Linked DNA regions of Homo sapiens: region 2 is linked to region 1. The links come from fine-mapping of genetic effects on gene expression. A gene starts in region 1. The other region holds a variant in brackets. All regions are shown on one strand. Distances are between the middles of the regions.

What was found. PIP is the estimated chance that this variant, and not a neighbour inherited with it, causes the effect.
Region 2: its variant is the best candidate, but not a certain one, in a credible set for the expression of LRATD1 in lung (TOPMed, PIP 0.89).

The regions. Positions count from the first base shown.
Region 1 is chr2:14,626,876-14,638,243 of GRCh38, reverse strand. It overlaps LRATD1 (LRAT domain containing 1), which reads right to left and starts at 5,527. Exons shown (of 2, transcript NM_145175.4): 1 at 5,307-5,527; 2 at 1-4,300. The coding sequence starts at 4,264. The coding sequence ends at 3,386.
Region 2 is chr2:14,397,845-14,409,212 of GRCh38, reverse strand. It overlaps LINC00276 (long intergenic non-protein coding RNA 276), which reads left to right and starts at 8,255. Exons shown (of 4, transcript NR_103814.2): 1 at 8,255-8,370. RefSeq lists an enhancer at 6,853-7,410. The variant A/G (reference allele first, on the strand shown) is at 6,231.

The DNA.
Region 1 (11,368 bases):
ATTCTATAGTTTTTTTTTTTTTTTTTTTTTGGAATGTACTTTGAGAATAACAGCATTTCAGGACTGGTTTTGTTTAAAGTATACCCAGCCCCCCTCCTTATTTTATTTGATTTTTGGTTTAAATAAAAATGTAGCAAAGCACTCTTTGAAGTAAAAGTACCTGTCTTTTCTTTTTTCTTTTTTTAAATCATAGTTTGTTTTACCTGAAAGTTGAGAAAGAATGCAGTATAAATATAGCTTTTCTCTACACGGGAGCAGGGGGAACAGAACCAATCCCCAGCTTAGCCACACCCAACATCATGGAAATTACTGTGAACCTGTTGTCTCTTGAGGACAACTAAAACCAAAACGAAATCCCTAACATTATTAAAATGTTAGGAAACTTTTCAGGTAATTGCTGTAACTCTGGTAAAATACAGAAAGATTACATTCACTCATAATAAAAATCAAGTGTGCCCACGCCATCTGCAAAGGGAACTTGCACCATCTTGGTTTCACTCGCATTGTTAACAGTGCCCTAAAAGTATACACCTTTTTCAGGATAAAACCATTAGGTAATATCTTGATCATATCCTCTGCATGATGAACTATCACTCAAATTATTCTGTCATGGGTTACCTTACTAACACTGACAAAGAGATAATAAATGATAATTTTAACAGGGATAGGAGAAACCTTGCAAACCTTTCAAGTTTCTTTCATAACTATTGTTTTATTATTGCATATTTTTAGAGGTATTATCATCAACCTGATCCTTTATAGGCCAATATAGTAACAAATGCTAATTTAACTGCCCAGCTCATTTTTATTGTCAGTCTAGCCTCAGCAAGTATAAAACTGACAAGACATTCCTCTATGAGAGTGACCCTCTTAGTGAGAGAGAAATCTATGTACCATCAGAGGAAATAAATCTTAGTATTCGGTGTGATAGAGACTAATTCATTTCTTTTGATGAAGTCCCACTCTTTGAGTGACTTTGAAGGGGGAGACAAAATGTCAAGAAGGAGTCCTGCAGGAACAAGTGCTTAAGATGGTGTTTAATACAGCAGGGAGCCAAGATACAGTAGTAGGACACAGTAAAGAATGTGGAGTGTGTAGATACAATAAAGAATTCATTTTATGATCTGCCACCTGTTACTTGAAAGAGGAGTAAGTTAGGGAAATAAATGACTCAGTTCTTCATACATGCAAAGGTAAGTTAGTTATTACAAAAGTTTTTGCTGTTGTTTGTGCTGAAAGAAAAGCATATGCATTTAAACATTTTTTAAAAAATAAATCACTCAATAGGCTTAAGAAAAATACTTTAGTTCATAGTTCATTGATCTGACGTTTTGATTTAAGATCAGGGGATGAATCCAGGATGAAAACCAAAGAAAAAAAAAGAAAAAGAAAGAAAAATATAGAAGTGAATCATTTACCATGAAAAAGGCATTTCCAGCCTCAGCTAACCTCAACTAGTTTTTATTGCATTATTTTTGAAATGCCAAGAAACTGGCTTTGGCCATAATACTTGCTGTCCAACAAAATCACAGCTGTTAATATGCAATTGCTTGCAACAATTAGCTAAACAGCATTATTTGACAAATTCCCTTGAAAGAGACATAGATGCTATTTAAGTGTCTAGCACACTGAATCAAGTAACTATCAGTTAGGCTGGGGCCGCAGCTGGAGGGAGGAGAGAAGTTTACAAATCCTTGTCCACAGAAGGTGTTTCACACCCAGCCTTAAGTTTTTGAAAAACACACATTTGTCCTGATCCTACAAGTTCATCATCCCTGTTTTCAGGAAGAACTGAACTGTGGAACTGGCCAAAGAGGAGGGGGAAAAAGCCACCAACTCTAGATTCATTTTTAAGGAGATCAGGAGGAGAGGAAGAAAAATAGAAACGCGTATGTGAAATGGTAATGATATACAACATGGAGAAAAAAATAAACATCGTGGAACCTGCTAGCAATTTCCACCAATTTCCACCAAAGCAGTGAACCCCTTAACTGACAGAAATTCAGTACAATATACACATTAATTAACAACTCCACCATTACTAGGGCTGCTGTTGAAAGCCAAAAAATTAACTACAATATTGAAAAACAGAATGCTTACAATATCTGAGAAAAATAGAGTGAAAAGGCAATGTTAGCTAAGCTCTTAGCTACATCCACTCTTAATGGCCCCCAGTATTTAAACTATCATGGATTAAAGCCATGAAAATAAAAATTTCAATTTGAAATTTTATTAGCCTGTTGCTAAAATGGTCAATAAAAACATCAACACGATAGGCTTTGTTGACATAGTTGGAAAACTGCTCTCTCATTTTTAAAACTTTATTTCCACTTCCCCAGCTTTGAAGATTTCTATGTTAGGAAAAGCCAAACTAAATATACTGGCTATGGTGTTGTAACAATGCTGGTTTCTGGAATGGTGCCATGTCCTCCCCCTCCCTCTCCTCCAACTCCTTTAAAAATATGACTATTTTTGAAATGCAGCCCGAGGAGGGAGCAATCAAGGGTTCAGAACAATAAGCGCCCTTCACACATTCAAGTTCCCAGACACCAGGTGAACGAGCGAGCTCCTTGTCGGGGGCGGGGCCGGCTGTCCTCACCGAATTCGCAGCGCCATCTTCCTCCCGGGACCGGGCCGGCTTCCCTTCTGCCAGCGAGGGAGACTCGCAGGCAAAGGCGGGTGGGGGTGGCGTTCGCTTCCCACGGTGGAAAGAACCGGAGGCAAACACTGTCTGGCTTAGCCCGCAGCCTGGAACACAATGTCAGGAGACCTGGGGCTGGAGAGCTGGAAAAGTCCCGGGCAGCCTCAGGATAACCCGGAATCCCGAAGTGCTGTCTTGGGGAATTATTCCCAAGTGCACAAGGGACAGGCTCGATTTCTTGGAAATCCTGCGATCTGGGGACGCATCCACAGAGGAGCTGAACTGTGCCCTGTAGAGACCAGTTCTCGCCTCCGACCGGTCTGTGTGCGCACGCTCGGGGCGGTGATGGTCCCTTTTGAGAAGAGGGTTGTTTTCGAGTCGGGCCACAGTCACTGGCCATGGACTCGCGGGGAAGGCCATGTCCTTTCTCCCCTCAGCCCCTTCCCCGTTCCCGGTTTACATCTCAAGGGGAAAGCGCACGCGGGGTCTCCCAGCACCGTCACCACCGCTGTGGCTGTCAGCCAGGCGCTCGCAGCGGCGCCCTTTCGGCCCTGGGGCAGTTCCTGAGACTTCCTGCCGCTGGCTTGGGGATGCGGGGGTGCAGCCCGGGCCCGGGCCACCGGCGGCGGACGCGCGTGGCGGGGCGGGGCAGAGGTTGAGAACCGCTGACTGCGAAGTCCGGGTGCGGGGAAGGGAAGGGAGCGAGGTGCGGGGGAGGCAGAGGGGCCGGCAGCCCCTAGGCGGCTACTCCTTGTCGTCCACGAGGTCGGCGAGCTCCTGGAGCACTCGCAGGCGGCCGCTGGCGTCGATACGGCGCTTCTCGCGGATGAGGTCTTCCAGGCTGTGAAACCTGGCGGTGTGGACCTTGTTCTCTCCCAGGTGCACCTTGAGATAGTACTGCTGCTGCGGGGGCTGCGTGCCTGCCGGCACCTCCCCTCCCGCCTTGAACTCCCGCTTGCCAAAGCGGCACCAGGCGGCGAAGCTCTCCGAGTTCGTCCAGCAGATCTCCTCGCTCTTGAGGCCCAGGTGGCCGCAGGCGTTCTGCACCACCAGCTCGGCCACCAGCGGGCGGTAGCGGTACCAGCTATTCACCACCCGGCCCACGTTGGCCGCGCCCGCCTCATACAGGCTGTCCTGGCGGATCTCGCCTTGGTGCAGGTGGATGATCTGCCCGCCGCCCACGTAGACGGCCCAGTGCGGGGCGGGCGCGGGCGGCTCCGGCGCGGGCTGCAGCCACAGCAGCTCCAGCAGGTCGCCGGGTTCGCAGAGCGCTGGCAGCGCGGTGACCGCGTAGACGCTTAGGTCGGCGCCCTGAGGGCCACCGCTCACTTTGGAAAAGATGCATTCCTGGCCCCGAAAGGCGGAAAACTGAGTCTCGTTGAGGACCAGCTGGTGCAGCAGGTGGTGGTGGTGGCGGCTGGGGCTCTCCGGGCAGGGGGTGCAACCCGGGGGGGCCTTCACGCCAAACTTGTCGGGCTGCCCGCGTTCGTCCAGGTCTTCCTCATCATCCGAGAAGAAGTAGGCAACCCCGACCCGCAGTTCGTCCTTTTCAATCCCCGACGGGTCCCCTGTGGGCAACTCGCTGTAGTTGAGGTGGGTGATGCGGTCCAGTTGGTTGCCCATCAATGAGGTGGCGAGGCGAGGGCCAGGAGCGGGGATCTGCGGAGGCACAGAGAGGCAGAGACACCGTCAGAGTCCGGGCTGCCCCTTTCGGTGTCCCTCCCCAAGACGTGCAGTGCCCCTGGGACCTGCCGGCTAGCTTACGTGCCCTCACCGGAGTCACCCTTTCCAGCCGAGTCCTCCGTGCCTCCCCAGGGGTACGAGGGGCGGAGAAGCCGCCACAGGTCAGGCGAGAGCAGACGCCACCACACAGCCTCCGACCCCTTCCGGGAACTCGGTCCAACTCCCAGAAGAAAACACCCAGGCTGGCTGGAGAGCTTGCGGGGTCCCGGTGGGGAGGAGAGTGCTGGCTGTGGCAGTGTGGGAGACGGACACCCAGGAAGGACCGAGGGGTGGGCTGAAAGGGAGAAGGGAGCCTAAGGCCAGTGAGCTGGGAGCAAGCTCCCATTTCTGTCCCCACCCTCTCCAGCCCACCTCCCAGTTTTGCACTAGGTTGCCTTCCTCCCCTTACAGCGGCTCGCACAATGACAATCAGACACATTCTCAGGCATTCACTTGACACCAGCAACATTTTGGACACTTGGGAGTCCAGACACTGGCAGCCTGGTATACTGGTGTATGTCACATACACCCACAATGACAAACCTTCGCGACGACACACTGGCACACTTAGACCCCACACATTCGTACACAATTTCAGCTCCACGCTTGCACGCTCGCCGTTGCACGTACGCCCAAGCACCCGGGCACACCTGCCCTCACAGGCAGGTGCACTCTGCCCCTTACTTCTCTTGCCTTGTCCCCATCAGGGCCAATGGGACTGCGCCAGGGCGAGGCTGCTCTGTCTAAAATAACCTAACAAAGAGGCAGGGGAAGGATGGAGAAAGCCAGTGCAGTGTATGTGTGTGGGTGTGGGTGGGAGCGTGTGTGTGTAGAGAGGTTCACTTTTAGCCCAAAGACCCCTCTCCCTCCTACCCAGCACAGGATCCAAACAATCGGATGAAGAAAAACCGTTTCCAAGGCAAAGAAAGCCGCTTCTCCCTACCCGTGATTTCCCTGCTCCCGAAACCCCAAACTCCTTTAAAGTCTCCTGGTCCCCATGGGTGCTGAGGAAGCGGCGGTGGCGAGTGGGTCCTGGGCTGCGCGTGGGGCTGCGGCTCCGCTCTACCCCGAGCCGAATCGTGCGGTGCGGCGCCCGTGCGCCTCCAGGTCTGCGCTGGCCGGGGCGCCTGCTCCCACTGGACAGTCCCGGCTCGGCTCTGCTTTCCCACCGCCGCGCCGACGACTCTAAGTAGCCGGAGCAGCCGGTCCCAGGGCCCGCCCCAGGACGCGCTCATTGGTTGGGGCGGGTGCTCGAGCTGTGTCAATCTTCGCCGGCGGGGGAGGGGAGCAGAGGCGGGCCTCCTGTGCGCTTTGCTCTGCTCCGCTCCGCCCCGCCCCGTACCCCGCACACCCGACCGCGCGCCGCCCCGGGGAGCGGAGGTGTGCGCACCCGCGGGGGGCGCGGCGCTTTCTGCCAGGTGCCGATGCCCGCTTGCGCCCGCGCCCCCCAGCTCATCCGAGCTGATTGTGACTGAGAACACAGCCCGCCCGCGTTCCGTGTTCCAGGAAGACAGACTCCAGCGGGGAAGCTGAGTCTGGGTATGGAGAAGAAACCCCAGGGCACCCCAGTATGGCCCAGGCACTGCGAGCGGCCCGGGGCAGGCAGCGACATTGCCCGAGGCGGGCGTCTGGGCCCTGCTGGGATCCCCCAGAGCCTTGGTTCCCGATGGCCCCTAGGCTGGTCCTTGGATCGAAGACCCTTTTCGTTCCCCAGACGTCTTTGAAATTGCTCCTGCGACGTTTGGCTCCTCTTCTTTGACTGGAGTGAGGCTGCTGACCCAGAGCTGATGCCCGATTTAAAAGGAGCTTGGTGTCAAATGCCACCCAAAAGCCTGAGCTTTGGCCGGTGCATTCCCTGGCTGTGCCTATGATATTGGCCTCCAATTTTCTGAATATAGGAGGAGTACCTCACAACTCATGTATGTGAGTTCATACATGCAAGCAGAGAGTAGGATGTAAAAGTGTTTTCCAAGCCTCAGAATTGGGATTGCTAAGCAAGTTTTGTTTGGTTTTGTGGGAAAGGAGGCTCCAGCAGTAGTTAATGATTACATTTCTGGATGGAAAGTTAATGAATGAATGTGTTCTGAATATTGGATGCTGAAAAAATGAACTTCATATATACAACATTCCAGACCAATAGTTTCAAAAGTTCCTAACATTAAGCCTCAAAGAGTTCTTAGACATCTGGTTCTGGCCCCAATGCTACTCATCTTTAAGCCTGGGCTCCAGCAGCTTTTCTATGAAGCCTCTTTTCTTTCCCAATGAGGAATTTGATACTTCCTATTTGAACCCCCCACCTCTTCCCTACAAAGCGAATTCCTTGAGAATAGACTTTGCATTCTGCACAACCTTGTATTCTGGGCCTCTTTCCCAATGCTAGTCATGCAGTGTGTTCCATCAGTAATAGTAAAAATGAAAACAGCCTGTATTGACCACTTATACGTGGTCAGACACTTAAGAGTAAATTAAGTAGACAATTTAATCATTATTCCTCTGTAGGGTACTCACTAATATCCGAATTGTAACAAACAGGGAAACAAAAGCTCCAATACTAGTACCAGCAATCCATCCAAGCCTACGGGATACCAGATCCAGTCTTTCACTAAGTTATAGTGTTTATTGAATAAAATCTTGTTTCATAAAATGAGAAAACTGGTGTTTCAGAGAAGTTAGATGATTGGCTCAAGGTTACATGGAGACTGATCCATATTACAACCCCCTTTTTCTTTGCTAGACTTTTCTGCTTGAATATCTTCAAACCGCCAAGCCTCCAGTTTATGTTTGCTTTCTGAAGGTCTCTGTACACCCCCACAGCCTCCAAATGCAGTGATTTATCAAATTAGATGCTAAAATATTGCTGGAAAAAATGGTTTTAAATGACCATCGGTATACAATTGATGTACCTAAATCTTTTTGGAAATTTGGCTATTGTCCATGTGCATGCAAGTTATCAGAAAACAAGTTGCCATTCGTGGAACTGACCACAGGTTGAGATGGCCTTTTTTATACTTGCCATAAGTAATAAACAACTCATTTTGGCCCTGAAGTCAAGAGAATTGAACAAGTAGCTTTAGAGATAAGGAGTGAGTTATTGGTCTTGTTATAAACTGGACTTCAGGGCTGTCTGGGATGAGGGTATCTGAAGAGTTCATTGTTGATGTCTGAGAAGAACTCTTTGAAAGCAACTCAGCGTTTGAATAACTTAAAAAATATCCTCCCTCCATCCCCAAGATCAAGCCTTGTGCACAGACATTTACAACTCATTTGTTGTGTTCTGCCCTACGTGTTCTATTTCATTCTGCTCCAGACTACAGAGTAAGCAGGTCGTTCCTCTTTGTTTAGTATTCCAATACTATAAAGCATAATTAAGATAAAATGTTGTCAGTTATTGGAGATATAGTGCCTAAAGTTTAAAATTTTTGGCCTCTCCGTTTCCTCTCATTCCCCCTGCTAGGCTAAACGGCTAACTGCTTTTGTAATCACATGGGAGAAAAAATACCCTGGAGCCCCCTTGAAACATAAGGCAGGGAACACATTGACTGTGAGGCTTGAAATAAAGGGAGCTAAAAGTAAACTAAGGAAAATACATCTACACTTTGTCTTCTTTTGGCACTTACCAGATAATAAAGTAAGACAATCAAATGAAGGATGCTGATTGTAGAAAATGTTTTATGTTCATCACAAAATATTGTTTTCAAATTGTTTTGACTTTTATTTTTTACTCCATCCTGCCTGCTTTTACAATGAGAAAATACAGTGCTGTCCAAAGTAGAATATAGTTGTCCAAAACACAAACTCTGAAAGCCAACTAATTTAAACTCTTTTTCAACATTTATTGCTGGGTAACCTCGAGTCCGTTATTTAAACTTTGTGGGCATCAGGAAACTTCCTTATCTGTAAAAAAGAGATAATAATAGTGGTTACCTCACTGAATTGTTGTGAGTTCATACATGTAAGCATAGTGTCTGACGCACAGTGAGTTTTCAATCAAGGCTATCTTATTATTATTCTTGGTGGAAGAGAGAGGTCTCATACCCTACTTGTTTAGGACAGCTGTGCAGTTCTCTTTCTCCTTTGCCCCAGGCTAAAGGTAGCAATAGATAGTGTCCAAGGCTTTCCCTGATTGGGGTGTAGGACTGCTTCTGTGTTAAGGTGGTGAGATCCCTGCCTATCCTTCAAATACTCTGAGACCTAAAGCTCTCTATAGATTTCAGCATGTGAGCCCCTGGGCTGATCATGTGGTAGCAGGGAGTGGGGTGGGGGTTCCCTGAAGGATTTTTAATTGTTTTAAATGAACATTTCCGGTGTGAGGAATTTGTGTGGGGAAAAAAGTTACAGGGGAGTGATTAGGAGTCAATCAAATGTATGTGATCTTTTCTGCTGGTGCCATCTGATGTATCCTCTCTCTCTCTTTTTTTTTTTTTGTTTTTGGTTGCTTCTTTGGCACTATTTGAAAAGCTTTACTCCAAATTTTACTGAACAGGTCCTTGGCTCAAACTGTCATCCTTTAAAATTGGCCTTGGAGCTTGGAGTAAGGGTTCAGGAAAATTATATGCCCCACTTTATCCTTTAATGAAATGAACTGTTCCATCTCCTGTCCTTCACTGCCTTAGGCAGTTAACATACTCACCCTGGTCTGAGCTAAAGAATACTCTGTGTCCATCTGGATTAGAGATGGTTATATGGCTTCACCAATCCCATTTCCCTTCCTTCTGGGCACCCAGCTAAATGACAAGTCCCAGCATGCCTGCAGTCATTTGCCCCATGCCCTGTGACTGAGTTCTGGCAAATGGAATGTGGGTGGAAGTAGAATAAGCCACTCCCAGGTGCCGCTCCTGAAAGCTCCTGAAACTGAAACTATTATTAACACAATCTTCCAGAGCTTTCTTTTGCCAATTTGGCCATTTGTAGAGGATTCATGGTAGGACTCCTAGGATCTAAGAGATGGAGGAGCCACTAGATGGAAGAAGGCCGGAGCTCCTGAATGACTGTGTAGAGCTGATAATTTCCCCTCCCAAGAAAACTGCATTGGACTGTGAAGAAATAAATCTTCTTGGGTTAAGCCACTCCAAAATTGTGTGGTTATTTATTATAGCAGTTAGCCTGTACTGACTGATATACTGTCCTTCATTTTAGACCTATCTCAGAACAATAAAAATCTCCCCCACTTCCCCCGTCCCCACACACACCTCCTACCTCCTTCTCTCTTTGTATCTGTTCTCACTGCCAAGGCTAACTTGCCTGAAATCCCTGCAGCATTTCAGCAGGTTCACATCACCTAGAATGTAAAGAAATCACTAATGAACACTTCTCTCCCCTCTAGGTACTACCCCATATCTCCCTACTATTTGTTCTAGAAATTTTCACAGCTTCCATGTGACTAACTTACCCAGCTCTCTGAACATCTTACCTGCTTTCTACTTTTGTAGACCACAACAATGGCGTGGGAAACCCCTCCCAGTAAACTTCTTGCAGCTGGTATCCTGCTTCCCTTAACCCGCATGCATGCATTGACACTCTGGCTATCAATTTCCTCTTCAGTGCCCATTTCCAAGTTTGGCTTCCACATTTCCATGTTCTCTAATTTCCTTCCCATAACTGAGTGTTCATATTAAAGTGTCTTTTGTGGCTTCTTATCAGCGAACCATTAAAGACTCATGAATGCTCCCTGGGTAAAACCTTTAGCACTAATTGGTTTAATATTTTATTTTTTTGTGGATTATACAAAGATATCTTCACCTAGCATTCATTTTTCTCTGTGTTCTCTCCCAATTTTAGGATAGTTCATGCCTTTTGTTTGGGCCCACTTCCCCATATGAGTGATGGTTGAACTTTCCTGGGTAGGCATGGGTCACTATTACAGACACACTGCTTACTCTTCTTTTTCTCTGGAATGTCTTTCCCTGCCTGTCTGATCTAACCTCCACTCAAAATTAATAACCCAGGTTATCAAGCGTCAGCCCCTCCAATATATCTGTCCCCTCAGCCCACTCTAATTGAGACCCTCCTTTATGCTTCCATAGCACCATCTGTATATTGGACACAAGATATGTCAGAAATTTGTCAAAACACTTATCAAATTGAGCTGGCATCATGGGTTGACGTTCCTCTTTTTCCTTATTAATAGACTAAAGAATATTTGAAGAAAAGTCCAAAATCGAATTCAAGTCCATATTCTCTTTGCCAAGTATAGGGTTTGGTGCAATGTGCACTCAATAAATACACCTTGCCTGACTCAAGGCGCACGTGAATAATGGTCTCTGTTTTAGTTAGTGAGGTGTCGGTATTTGTGTTTGTTTCAGCTTTCTCTAATTTGAACGCTTCAATACCCTACACATGTATTAAATTAGACAATGTGTGGGAAGGTGTGCTATGTGATGTATAGTGTTGGGTTTCCAAATGGTCCTCTAGCATCATCAGGGAACCTGATAAAAATGCAGATTCCCAGGCTCTATTCCCAAGCTACTGAAACTTAATCTTAGGATTGGCTCTAGGAAATTTGCATTTTGAACAGTCTTTCCAGGCATTTTGGATGCTGTGTAGTAATTACAAGTCAAATGCTACTCAAATGTAACAAAAAAAATATTCTTCTTAAGTACAGGGACAGCCCTTGAGGAGTAGGCACTTAATAAATACTTGGAATTTCATTCTCTAGACATCCTCTGGTTCATTTCAACAGCAGTGAGACTCATTTTAGACTTGCTCATACGAAGCTGGTAAATAAAGGTATCAGTTTGCATTGTGAAGTCAAGTGGCTTGTTTAAAAGTCATATTGCAGGTGCATGGTAGAGCTGAGGCTTTATCTTTTTTTCTCCTTGCTCAAACTCCGTGCCCCCGCCCACTGTGCTCATAGGCTGTGGTTAGAGCAGAAACCTGCATAAACAGGAAAACTTTCTGTTCCTAGGTATCAAATTCCCTTTTAGGCTACTGATTGACTGATTATGAAAATCTTGGTTCTGTCTCTGCAAAGAGTAACTTTTATGCTCTTTGTGTTGCATCTGGATT
Region 2 (11,368 bases), 230 kb after region 1:
GCCTCCCTGATTAGCTTGGTAACTAACCTCCTGAATTATTTTTCAAATAAATCAGAGATTTCTTCTTAGTTTGGATCCACTGCTGGTGAACTAGTGTGATTTTTTGGGGGGTGTTAAAGAGCTTTGTTTTGTCATATTACCAGAGTTGATTTTCTGGTTCCCTGTCTTTTGGGTAGTCTCTGTCAGAGGGAAGGTCTAGGGCTGAAGGCTGTTGTTCAGGTTCTTTTGATCCATGGGGTGTTCCCTTGATGTAGTACTCTCCCCCTTTTCCTGAGGATGTGGCTTCCTGTGAGCCAATCTGCAGTGATTGTTATCTCTCTTCTTGGTCTAGCCACCCAGCAAATCTACTGGCTTCAAGCTGGTACTGGGGGCTGTCTGCACAGAGTCCTGTGATGTGAACCATCTATGGGTCTCTCAGCCGTGGATACCAGCACAGTATTTGGAGTGTCTCCCGGGTCCTGCAGAGCAGTCTGCTTTTTTCCAAGGGTGTGTGGGTCCTCTCGGGATTCCTAGTTATGTCATTTTAATCAACTTTCTTACAAAAAAAACCCTGTGTGCCTCAATTTTCTCATCTGTATGATAGGGATAAAATACATACCTATTGTAGAAGATAAAATATAATATTTTTTTCCTTTTTAGGTTCTCAGTTGAGATACTCTCTTGAAACCAAAAGTCAGATTAACAAAACAAAAACAAGCAGAAATACATTAATGTACACTGTACCAATTGTGTGGGAAAGGCCTCTACTCAAAAGTATTTCTCTCTCAAGGTGGTAGCTTAGAGGGTTTGCTTAAATAGTATTTTCACAAAGAGCCAGAAATCCTACTTAGTGGCAAGGCAAAGGAGAGAGCAATTTTGGTCTTTTAAAAGGTGGGAGAATGTGGAAAGATGGTAAAATCAGTTTCCAGATCCTGTTGGTGCCTGCTGGTGCCTTCTCTGGGACAACACACAAGTGCTGTTTTCAGTAAGGAAGGATTTATGTCCTGTGATCAGGCAAATAGAAGTGGAGGCAGAGTGTTTCCCTGAGTTTTCAGTGTCATTAGCAATCCTCAATATTTTGGGGTGAACATTTTGGTTTCTTTCACTATTCCATGAGGTTATTGGGTGAAAAGATAAATTAAAATATACAAAGTATTTAGAAAAGTACCTAGGAGTGTGACACATATTAAAACAAATTTAAACTCACCTATCAGAGTAACAATGAACATTTGAAATCCAAAAGTCAACATATAGCTCTTTGAAACCCAACCATAATTTTAACAGTGGTTGGGTTTAGACCCTGATTCTATTTTATTTTAATTAACTAATTAATTCATTATTTTAGATGGAGTCTGGCTCTGTCACCCAGGCTGGAGTGCGGTGGTACGATCTTAGCTCACTGCAACCCCCAACTTCTGGGCTCAAGCAATTCTTGTGTTTCAGCCTCCCGAGTAGCTGGGATTACAGGCATGCACCACCACACCCAGCTATTTTTTTGTATTTTTAGTAGAGAAAGGGTTTATCATGTTGGTCAGGCTGGTCTCGAGCTCCTGATCTCAGGTGATCTGCCCACCTCGGCCTCTCAAAGTGCTGGGATTACTGGCGTGAGCCACCGCACCAGGCTCCCTGATTCTATTTTAGACCATCATATATAGTATACAATTTTTTAAGAGGAAAGTTTTCTCTAAATTTCACACAGTAGACTAGACATCACGAGATAGGATAGAATATTATTCACTGGCTTAATGCGTACTTATTGAGCCAAGTCTTGTGAAAGACCTCAGTTATAAAGAAGCAGACCAAACAGAGTATTAGCTCCTGAGTTAATAGAGCTAAGGATACTGGAGGAAACAAAAATAAACAAGATAACTAACAAATAAGTAAATTATTACAAGATACAAAATAGACATGAATGTGTTTCCATGATGAAGAATAAAGTATTAGACTTCACTGGGTAGGTTACATTTGAGCTGAGGCCTGAGGGGTAGAAAGAAGCCAAAGCTTTGGGTTAAATGAAGAGCCTTCCAGGCAGATGGGACAAGTGTGACCAAGGCCCTAAAACAAAATGTCTTGGCGTGTTCTAGAAATTAGGAAGAAGTTAAATAATTGTTGCCTCCTTGATAATGGGTAACATGACTCAATATGATGCTAAAATGGAAAATAAATTGAGGACTTTTAAGTAGTGGAGCGATATTAATCCAATGTATATGCTTATGGAATCACTGGTGGCTAAATGGAAAGAGATTGAAGAAATGCAAAACTGAGAGCAGGGAGACCAGTTAGAGATGTCATGTAACAGAACAGGTGACAGTGGGTAGAAACAATGGTCTGACCAAGGGTGGTGGTGGCAGTGGAGATGAAGAAGAGTAGGCGGAATTCAGATTCCCCCTGCCCCCTGGCCACGCACACATGGATACACACGTTCCCATTTCCTTAGAAATACAACCACGAGTCCTTGATAATACATTTAATTTTGGAAGTGATGCAGAGGGTTAAGTAACTTAATGACTCCCGTATTTTTCACTTGCACAGCTGGGTGGATGGTGGCACCATTTATTGAGATTGTGAGGACATATGGTGAAGAAAGTTTTCAAAAGTTTTCAGAGGTGAAATTAAGAATTCATTATCAGATATGTTAAGTTTGAGATGCCAATGAGACAAAGACATGGAATCATCCAGGAAATAGTTGGGTAAACAAGATTGAATTCTAAGAAGAGGTCAGGAATAGATAAGCTTTTGGAAGGATTAGCACAGAGAGTATTGAAAGCTGTGTAAATAGATGAGATCCCCTTGTAATGTAGGCAAAGCTTGAGTGCTAAGAAACACTGGCATAAGCCAGGGAGATGCATTTGATAATGGGAGTAAGAGGGGACAATAGAGATTAGGATCACAGAAGCTTGGAGAAGAGAGTGTTTCAAGAAGTTTCAATGCACCAGGGACATTGAGTAAAATGAGTGCAGGTTTGGCAACACTAGGTGATTGAGACCCTGGAAAGAGTCATTTCCATACAGTCTGTAGGAGAGGAGAGTGTTTGTGCAGTGACAGAAAGGTGAGGAGGTGGATGCAGAGTGTGTACATAGCTCTTTCAAGATGTTTGACTGTGAAACAGGCTGAGAAATGGGCAGGACCTGGAGGACAATGTGGCTTCAGGGAAGTTTTGTGTTTTGTTGTTTTGTAAGATGGGTGAAACTAGATGGAGTTGACAAGATGTTAAGAATGATCCAGTGTAAAGAAGGAGCGCATGATGGTAAGAGTGAAAGGCCAGAGGAGCACAGTCTTTGGGAAGTCGAGAGAGGGAGACAAATACTAATGAGGAAGGTGAATACAACAGGCAGGTAGAATTGGTCATGGAAGACAAGAAACTCTCCTCTGATGACTGGTCCCTGATATAGCAAATTGTCCACTATGACTCTCTTTGTAGTAACATGCCCTGGGGTCAGGATGGAGTTTAAGCCTGGATAGAGATTGTTGACCTAAGATCCCTAGGTTGGAGATCAAGCCTCTAACTGGGCAGGTTCCCGATTATGTCATCAGCAGAGTTAAACCATTCATGCCTCTTCTAAGCTCCCAACAATCTCCATGCTCCTTTCTGTTTTATGGCTTTCTTCTGAAGAAATTAGCATGTCTGGGCATCTGCCTACAGAACTGTTCTGTCTGTCATTTGTTGAATACATGTTTATGGTAGAGTTTCATCTCACTGGGGGTTAGGTTCTAAAGATAGCAGATAAGAACATCACATATTTGATTATTGCTTCTGAAAATGCTCTGAATCATCCAAAGAATAAAGAAAGCATGATATGGTGAAACAACAGTACATACTACAGATCTTATAGAGCTTAGATGCCTGAGTTTGAATTCTGTGTCCACCATTTACAAGCTGTGTGATAGTGAGTGAAAACTCATGAACTCTAATTCCTTATCCCTAAAATGTGTTAAGTTAGAAGTTCAATCAAGTGTAGACTATTGGGGGTCCCTGAAATTCTTTCAATGGATCTAGGAGTCAACACAGACACATTTTGCCTTCTTCACTGTGTTTACTTTTGTACTGATTTTGCAAAAGGTTGGTGGCACTAGACTGCACTAGTAGTTGTTTCCTTCTTTACCATCACACACTTGCAGAAAAAAAAAGAGTTTAATGTAAGAATGTTTTTGATAAAAGAGTAAATATTAATAGTATTAGATCTCAACCTCTTAAGTACACTTTAAGAAAATTCTGTCTAACAAATGGGAAGTCCTTATAAAGCATTTCTGCTGCACAGTAGAGCACAACGGTTGTCTCTACAAAAGCTCTTGTGATTGTTTCCATTGTGAGCTAAACTAGCCATTTTTCTTTCATTAATATTACTTCTATATAAAAGAACAATGAACAGATGGAACAAAGCTCATCTGTACTTTGGTATTTGGCAGGCATAGTCTCAAAAGTGAATAAAGTGAGCTGATTACCTAAAAAAAAAAAATTGGTAATATTTGTTGCCAGTGATAAAACTCAAGCTTTGAAGTGAAAGAGTTTTGGAAAACTCATCTATGAGCTTGGCAGCTTCCCAATACTTAAGGATATATCAGATGAGATTGGTGGTGATATTAATGGCTATGATTTTGGGGGATGCTATATTTGATACTATGTTTCAACACTTGAAAGATCTTCATAATTTAATGAGCCCATACATTTCAAATTACCAATACATGGTGTTCAAAATCAAACATGAGTAATAGTTCTACTCTATAAGGTAGATCAAAGGACTTTAATGTAACAGAGCAGAAAACGATTATTGATATAGTTTCAGATTCCACACAACTACTAACCTTTAAGAAACTACAACTTGTCAGTTTTGGTATATAAAAAATATAAACCATTATGTGAGAAGCCTATTAAAAACTTCTCTTTCTAACCACATTCCTAGGTAAGGCCAGATTTTCTTCATATACTTCAACAAAAATGACACATCACAACAGATTGCATGCAGAAGCAGAAGTGGAAATTTAGCTGAATTCCAGTAACTAGACATTAAAGATTTGGAAAATGTAAAGCAATGCTACTTCTCTCAATAATTTTTCTATTTTGCAAAATGGTTTTTCAAAAATAAAATGTCATTTATGTTAAGATGTATATTATTATTTAAAATTAATACATATGAATTCTTTTATATTCTGCAGTTTTTAATTTCTAATATGTAAAATATTTATAGATATAATCCCCAGAAATTAAGCTCTGGTGGATTCTTAGTAATTGATAACGTAAAAGTTGTCAGAAGTTGTCAAAAGAACGTAAAAGATTCCAAACCATTGTACCTACTTTATTGCGCTGTTACGAGATTTAAAGTACTTAATGTGTGTTGAACCCTTAAAACAATGCGTGACATATAGTAAGTGATACACACATTTTTTTTGCACAAATACAGTATAGCATTATTTTTGGTGAGGTATAATGAAAAGGATGTACTCATCCCATTCCATCCCATTTCATTCCATCCTATCCCATCAATCATATCACATCTCCCTTCTCCTTCTTATTATGAAACATAAACTCACATTTTAGGATAATGAGTAAAAAATCTCTAATTCCTAAATTTCTTTTGCTTATTTTTTTCTCTCATTCTCACTTATGTCCACCTTGTAACCTCCTCCTTCTATATAGTTTAATTTGAATTCAGTAAAATATGTGTTATACAAACATATTTCAGTCATAGTGCTGGATGCTAGAAATAAAATGATTATTAAAACCCAGGGTTTTCCTGGAGGAAAAACCCAGTCTAGTGGGGAAAACAAAAAAATAAATAATTACAATATTGTCACGTAAAAACATAATATTTAGATGAAAAACCATTTGTTGATGTACAGAGGCAGATGCCTATAAAGAGAAAGAAGATCTCAAAAGAGGGAGCTGTCCTTTAAATTGTGAAGACCAAATGGGATTTGCCAATTGTGTAAGGGTTGAACAGTATTCCTGGGAATGGGTATGACATGGGGCAGCAAAGGCTTGAAGTCTCTGCTTTATATTTTATTTAGATTATAGGATGACTGCAGTGGGAGGGGGAATAAAAGGTGAGACTGAAAAAATATTTGGAGATTAGATTGTGTGTGCTGAAGTGCCTCATGCTGAACAGATACCTGGAGCCAAGGAAACACTTTAGGCAGGTGTCTGGTTAGTGATATAACTAAACACCTTCTTCCTCATCCTCAGGCTGGAGTTCCCATCCCTGTACTCCTGTGTCTATGACAGCAGGATGCTCTCAGGCTTTCATGTCCTCTTC[A/G]TAGCTGTCCCTTCATTATATGCTGGTACCAATATTAGGATCTTTGCTCTAGGCTGATCCTTTTTATTTATTTATTTATTTATTTATTTATTTATTTATTTGGAGATAGAGTCTTACTCTGTGACCCAGGCTGGAGTGCGTGGTGTGATCTTGGCTTACTGCAACCTCCACCTCCCACCCTCAAGCAATTCTTTTGCCTCAGCCTCCCAAGTAGCTGGGACTACAGGTGCATGCCACCAAGCTCTGCTATTTTTTTTTTTTTTTATTAGAGATGGGATTTTACCATGTTGGCCAGGCTCTGCTCTTGAACTCCTGACCTCAAGTGATCCTCCTGCCTCAGCTTCCCGAAGTGCTGGGATTACAGGCATGAGCCACCATGCCCAGCCTGAAGTTTTCTGAAGAGTTCTTAAAATCAGGATACTAGGCTCCTAGTAAAGGCAACAGCAGCGGAAAAAAAGGAATGAATTAGATACTATTTAGGAGGCACAACTGATAGAGAATTGTAACTGGCTATAGGTAGAGATGGAGTTTTTGGGCTGGATGACTCAGAACAAAATGATGATTACAAAAAATGAGGCAGGTAATTGATATAACTAAGTTTTTTTTAATTTGACTGCTTGTTAATCATTTTATCAGCCTTCTCAAAGGAAGTTTCTGCATCTGTTTTCCCTTCTTGCCTCCCTGAACCTAAAGAATAAAAACAATGGCAGCAACATTTTTCTGTGGAGCTGGCTTATAGGATAGGACTCGGAAGCAGCACAAGTCACTCCCCCTCACTCCCCTTTCTGGAGTAAACGTGGGCAGGTGGGGAGGGAAGCCTGCATTCTGATTTAGCCTCCCACCTTGGCGGACAATAACTCACCTCTTGGCACCAGAAGACAAGTCACAGCTGCTATTGTCTTGATAATTATGTTTACTCAAGCAGCGGAGTGGGAGTCCTGTGGTCAAGGGAGTGTGACTTGCCAGGTGCTCCCTGTCTAGGGCCTCTTTCCCCCTGAGGTGGATGAAGCTGTTCTCAGGAGCCCTTACAACCAGTTATAAATTACTTTCAGTGAGCTAAGGTCAAAGGCATGGGGAGAATAGTAAGTGACAACATTGAGGATTTATATGACCCCTTCCCTACTAGGAGACCAAACACTTCAAATATATGATCTCATTTGCCCTCCTCTGATCCCTGGAAAATGGAGGGCTTGAGGGAGGCAGTGGTTAGAGGCAGGTGTGAAAGCTCTGGTAAACAACCTTGAATGATCAGTATGGCAATATGGTTTTCTTTCTCTCTCATTTTTCTTTAGTACTTTTTTCTTTCTGGTTTTAGACAAATGAAGCAGACTAATTTTTCCAGGATTTTTTTAAACATTTTTACTTCCCTCCCTTAGTTTGATGGACTTCAGCAAGGTTGTGAGAATGAGTCTACATTTATTGGGGTTCTTTTGCTTTGATCCCTCAAGGAAATGACATGCTGATACCAAAATGCATATTAATAATCAGGATCAATAAATAAGTCAACTCTGATATGGAGAAATCCATAAGGTCATTTATTGAAAACATTAACTATTAAAGATAAATAATTACGGCTGGAATAAGTGCCTACGATTTATTTCCAAGCATTTGCATCTACCACTTGCTATGTGAAACTCTTCCATGAATGAGAAATCTGTTCTGTGCTTCTTTAAAGACACAGGGAGGTTTGAAGTGAATCCTGGAAGGTATCTCATATCTGACTAGTCCAAGGTCACACAGCATGCTACTGGGAGCTCTGACCTTATCACAGAGTCTCTGAAATTCCTATTCAGGTCTCTGCCTTATTTGAACATTGCATCTGTTGCTATTTGCCATACAAAGTAAAGTAACTTGAAAATGGTAGAAATAAACACCACAAAGGCAAAATAGAATGGTAAAAGGATTAGAGGAATGACACAGGAAAAGCGATTACAAGAATTTAATCTGTCACATGAAGCTTTGGGCAAAGAGGATAAAGGGAGGGTGACTGCTTACAAATTGCACAGGCTGTAAGGGGAGGATTTGGGGAGCCCAGACTTGCCAATGGGTAAGTGAGTCTAGTCAAGATGTAGGATTTCAGAAAACTCACTCAGAAGAGCAGGATGAAGATAAAGGAGGCATCATTCAGCAGCAATAACCAGTAAGTAATGGTAGAGATCTTTAGGGTGTGGGCAAGTGACCCTAAAGACTTGCAATGTTAGTTTAGCAATCTGTTTGCAATTTTCAAATGAAAAACACTTGGAACAAAGATAAGCTGCATGGAATAAACTGCCCTAGGGGAGATCATAAATTATCAGAGGTGCCTGGGGAAGTGGGAGAACATAGTTCTCCGTGCAGCTTTTAGCATCTTGCCGATGGAGGTCAGAGTGAAGGTACTGTGGTCAGAGTGAAGGCCTTGGCAGGTAGGACCTTTCACATTCCCAGAGCTACATTAATAGAGCTCCCTGGTCTCTGAACGGTGGGGAGCTATTTTGTAAGCCAATCAGGAACAATTCCACATTCAAGTAAGAGTATACCATCAAACAATTGCTCGGAATCCTAGCAGTTTCAGAGACAGTCTTGACATAACAGGCCGATGCATTTTATTTAATAAACCTAATCTATTCTAAATTTTCATTATGTTATTAAGTCACAACTTAATACCAAATGTGGCGATAATACACCTAGCTATAGATACTTATGTGACTAAGAAACTTCCTCCTCAGCAGATCTAAAGCAGAGGTCTGAAATGAACCCAATTCTGCTCTTTATTTAAGAGTAAACTAATAGTTGTAAAAAGTCATTAGGAAAGAACCTGGAACATCATCTGGGCCAGGCTTGTGAGGATACATATGAGGATATGCATGGGGCCCAGAGGGATTCTTTCCTTACACCAGCACCCACAGCAAAGAGGCAAAACTGCGTTTGAGTTGGGTAGCACACATCTCATCAAATCACAGTGCTTTTTTCTTCTTCTCTTTTCTCAAGCATGATCCTTCATTGTTTGGCACAGCCAGGGGAATTATTAACTAAAAAGATGTTATTTTAGTTAAAATAGTTTAGTTTTGGTTTTGGGAATGATTGCTGTTTTAGCATTTATTAGTGCTTAGTGAAATTTGTAACTTTTAGTTTGAAATTAAAACTGCCCAATTAGGCCAGGTGTGGTGGCTCACACCTGTAATCCCAGCACTTTGGGAGGCTGAGGTGGGCAGATTGCTTGAGCTCAGGAGTTTGAGATCAGCCTGGGAAACATGGAAAAATCTCTTCTCTACAGAAAACACAAAAAATTTGCCAGGTATGGTGCAGTGTACCTGTAGTCCTAGCTACCTGGGAGGCTGAAGTGGGAGGATCACCTGATTCTGGTGGTCGAGGCTGCAGGGAGCTGTGATGGTGCTACTGCACTCCAGCCTGGATGACAGAGTGAGACTCTGTCTCAAAAACAAAACAAAACAAACAACAAACCTGCCCAGTTATATCTACTGCATGATCAATGTAATTGTTCTGTAGTATTATGATTCCTGTAGCAATCTGTAGTTCTACTTTGTAGCTGGATGCAAAAGATAGAGCATAAATACCTCTTCCCTGAATGAGTTGCATTGATTTGAGAGCTCTGTTGAATAGTAGTCCTTTTAGAAATAGCAAGGAGAATCAAACTGAACTGTGTACAAAAAGTAAATGTAACATGACCCAATTTTTTGAAATTATGTAAAACCTTGATTTTTAAAAATGCACCTGTGATTTAAAAACAATGTGTCTAAAACAAATCTGGTGGACAAATTACCTCTGAAACATAATGAAGTTTAAACTAGTAGCAACCTTTAAAGAAATGAATTAAACTCTAACTTGGTGCAGTATAATTTCAGCAGAAATTAAGCTATAAATACCAAAATGTTTTCTAAAACAAACTGAACCAATTTGATGATGGGAAGTGAGAGGAGTTTAGAACCTGGTTTTATAAAAAGAAATTACAAGAAGCAAAACAATTACCAAATAAGTTTGTAGCCTGCAGTAATCACAGTTAGATTTTGGGTGGAAACATCACCTCTGAAATATAAAAAAGTTGCAGATATATTAAAAAAAAGCAGAACAATTTGAAGACAATGCATTCCTCAATGAGTCACATGTAAAAAGCACCAACAGAGAGGTGCATGCTTGCAAATGTTCTTTTTCAATATGCAGTGTTTAAGCTCATGACATTTATTTTTAGGGATGGTCCAAACAGAGCAGGGGTTGGCCTTGTTCTTCTCTAATTTTGTAAGAGGCATTTCTTGCTGGTGAACTCATTTTAGGCAACAGATAGTTGATGACCCTACTGTATCTCTTTTTCAGTATGTCAGTGATTCTTTTTCAGTATGTCCATGATTCAGTATGTCCATGATTCTTTTTTACACTCCAAGGTCAACTAAAACATAGTGTAGATGGAAACCAGGCTTTGAAATAAATTCTACTCAGTGTATTACACAACATAAACACTTGATATCCCTTCAATGCAAAAGAGCACCTCTAATTTATACCATTAAATCCTCTAAATTAGGATTTTAGTGAAACCTTTAGTTGGGTTTAATTGGTGAGTCTTTTTCTGTTCTGGTTTTGATTTTCTTCTGTTGTCATTTGGACCTTGTGGTTGGCTGATCTATTTCTGTGTCCTAATAAGCCTCCTTTGTACTGCTCATGATATTAATATATACTGTAAAATATTTTGTCTCTACAACTGCAAAGTTTCAAGCTTTAGAGTTTTCCTTAACTCTAATGAGTTTTCCTCTCAGGTTTATTGCTCAGGTGAGTTGACTTTTATCACCCTTCTTCACACTGATACAAATAAAGGAAATGACTAGAGGTCTATCTCTCTTCCTATGTGAATGTGCAGTGGTTGCTGCAAAGGGCCACCTTTCAGTGCTATTTTATTGGGAAGAATTTTATAAAGCTTCTTGACTTTGTGTAGGAAAGAAAAACTTCAAGAGTGAATGCAGCCTATAAAAGACTATGCTTACTTCCTTTATCCCACAAAAATAATAATATTATCCAATATGTTCCAGGTACTCATCCATGTTTAGTATATAAAACGAGTCGTGAAGGTAGCAGAAACTCAATAAATATTAGCTGAAATAGTGATGACTGTGTAAATGAGTAGTTACTAGCCTTCTTTTCGACATGAGAAA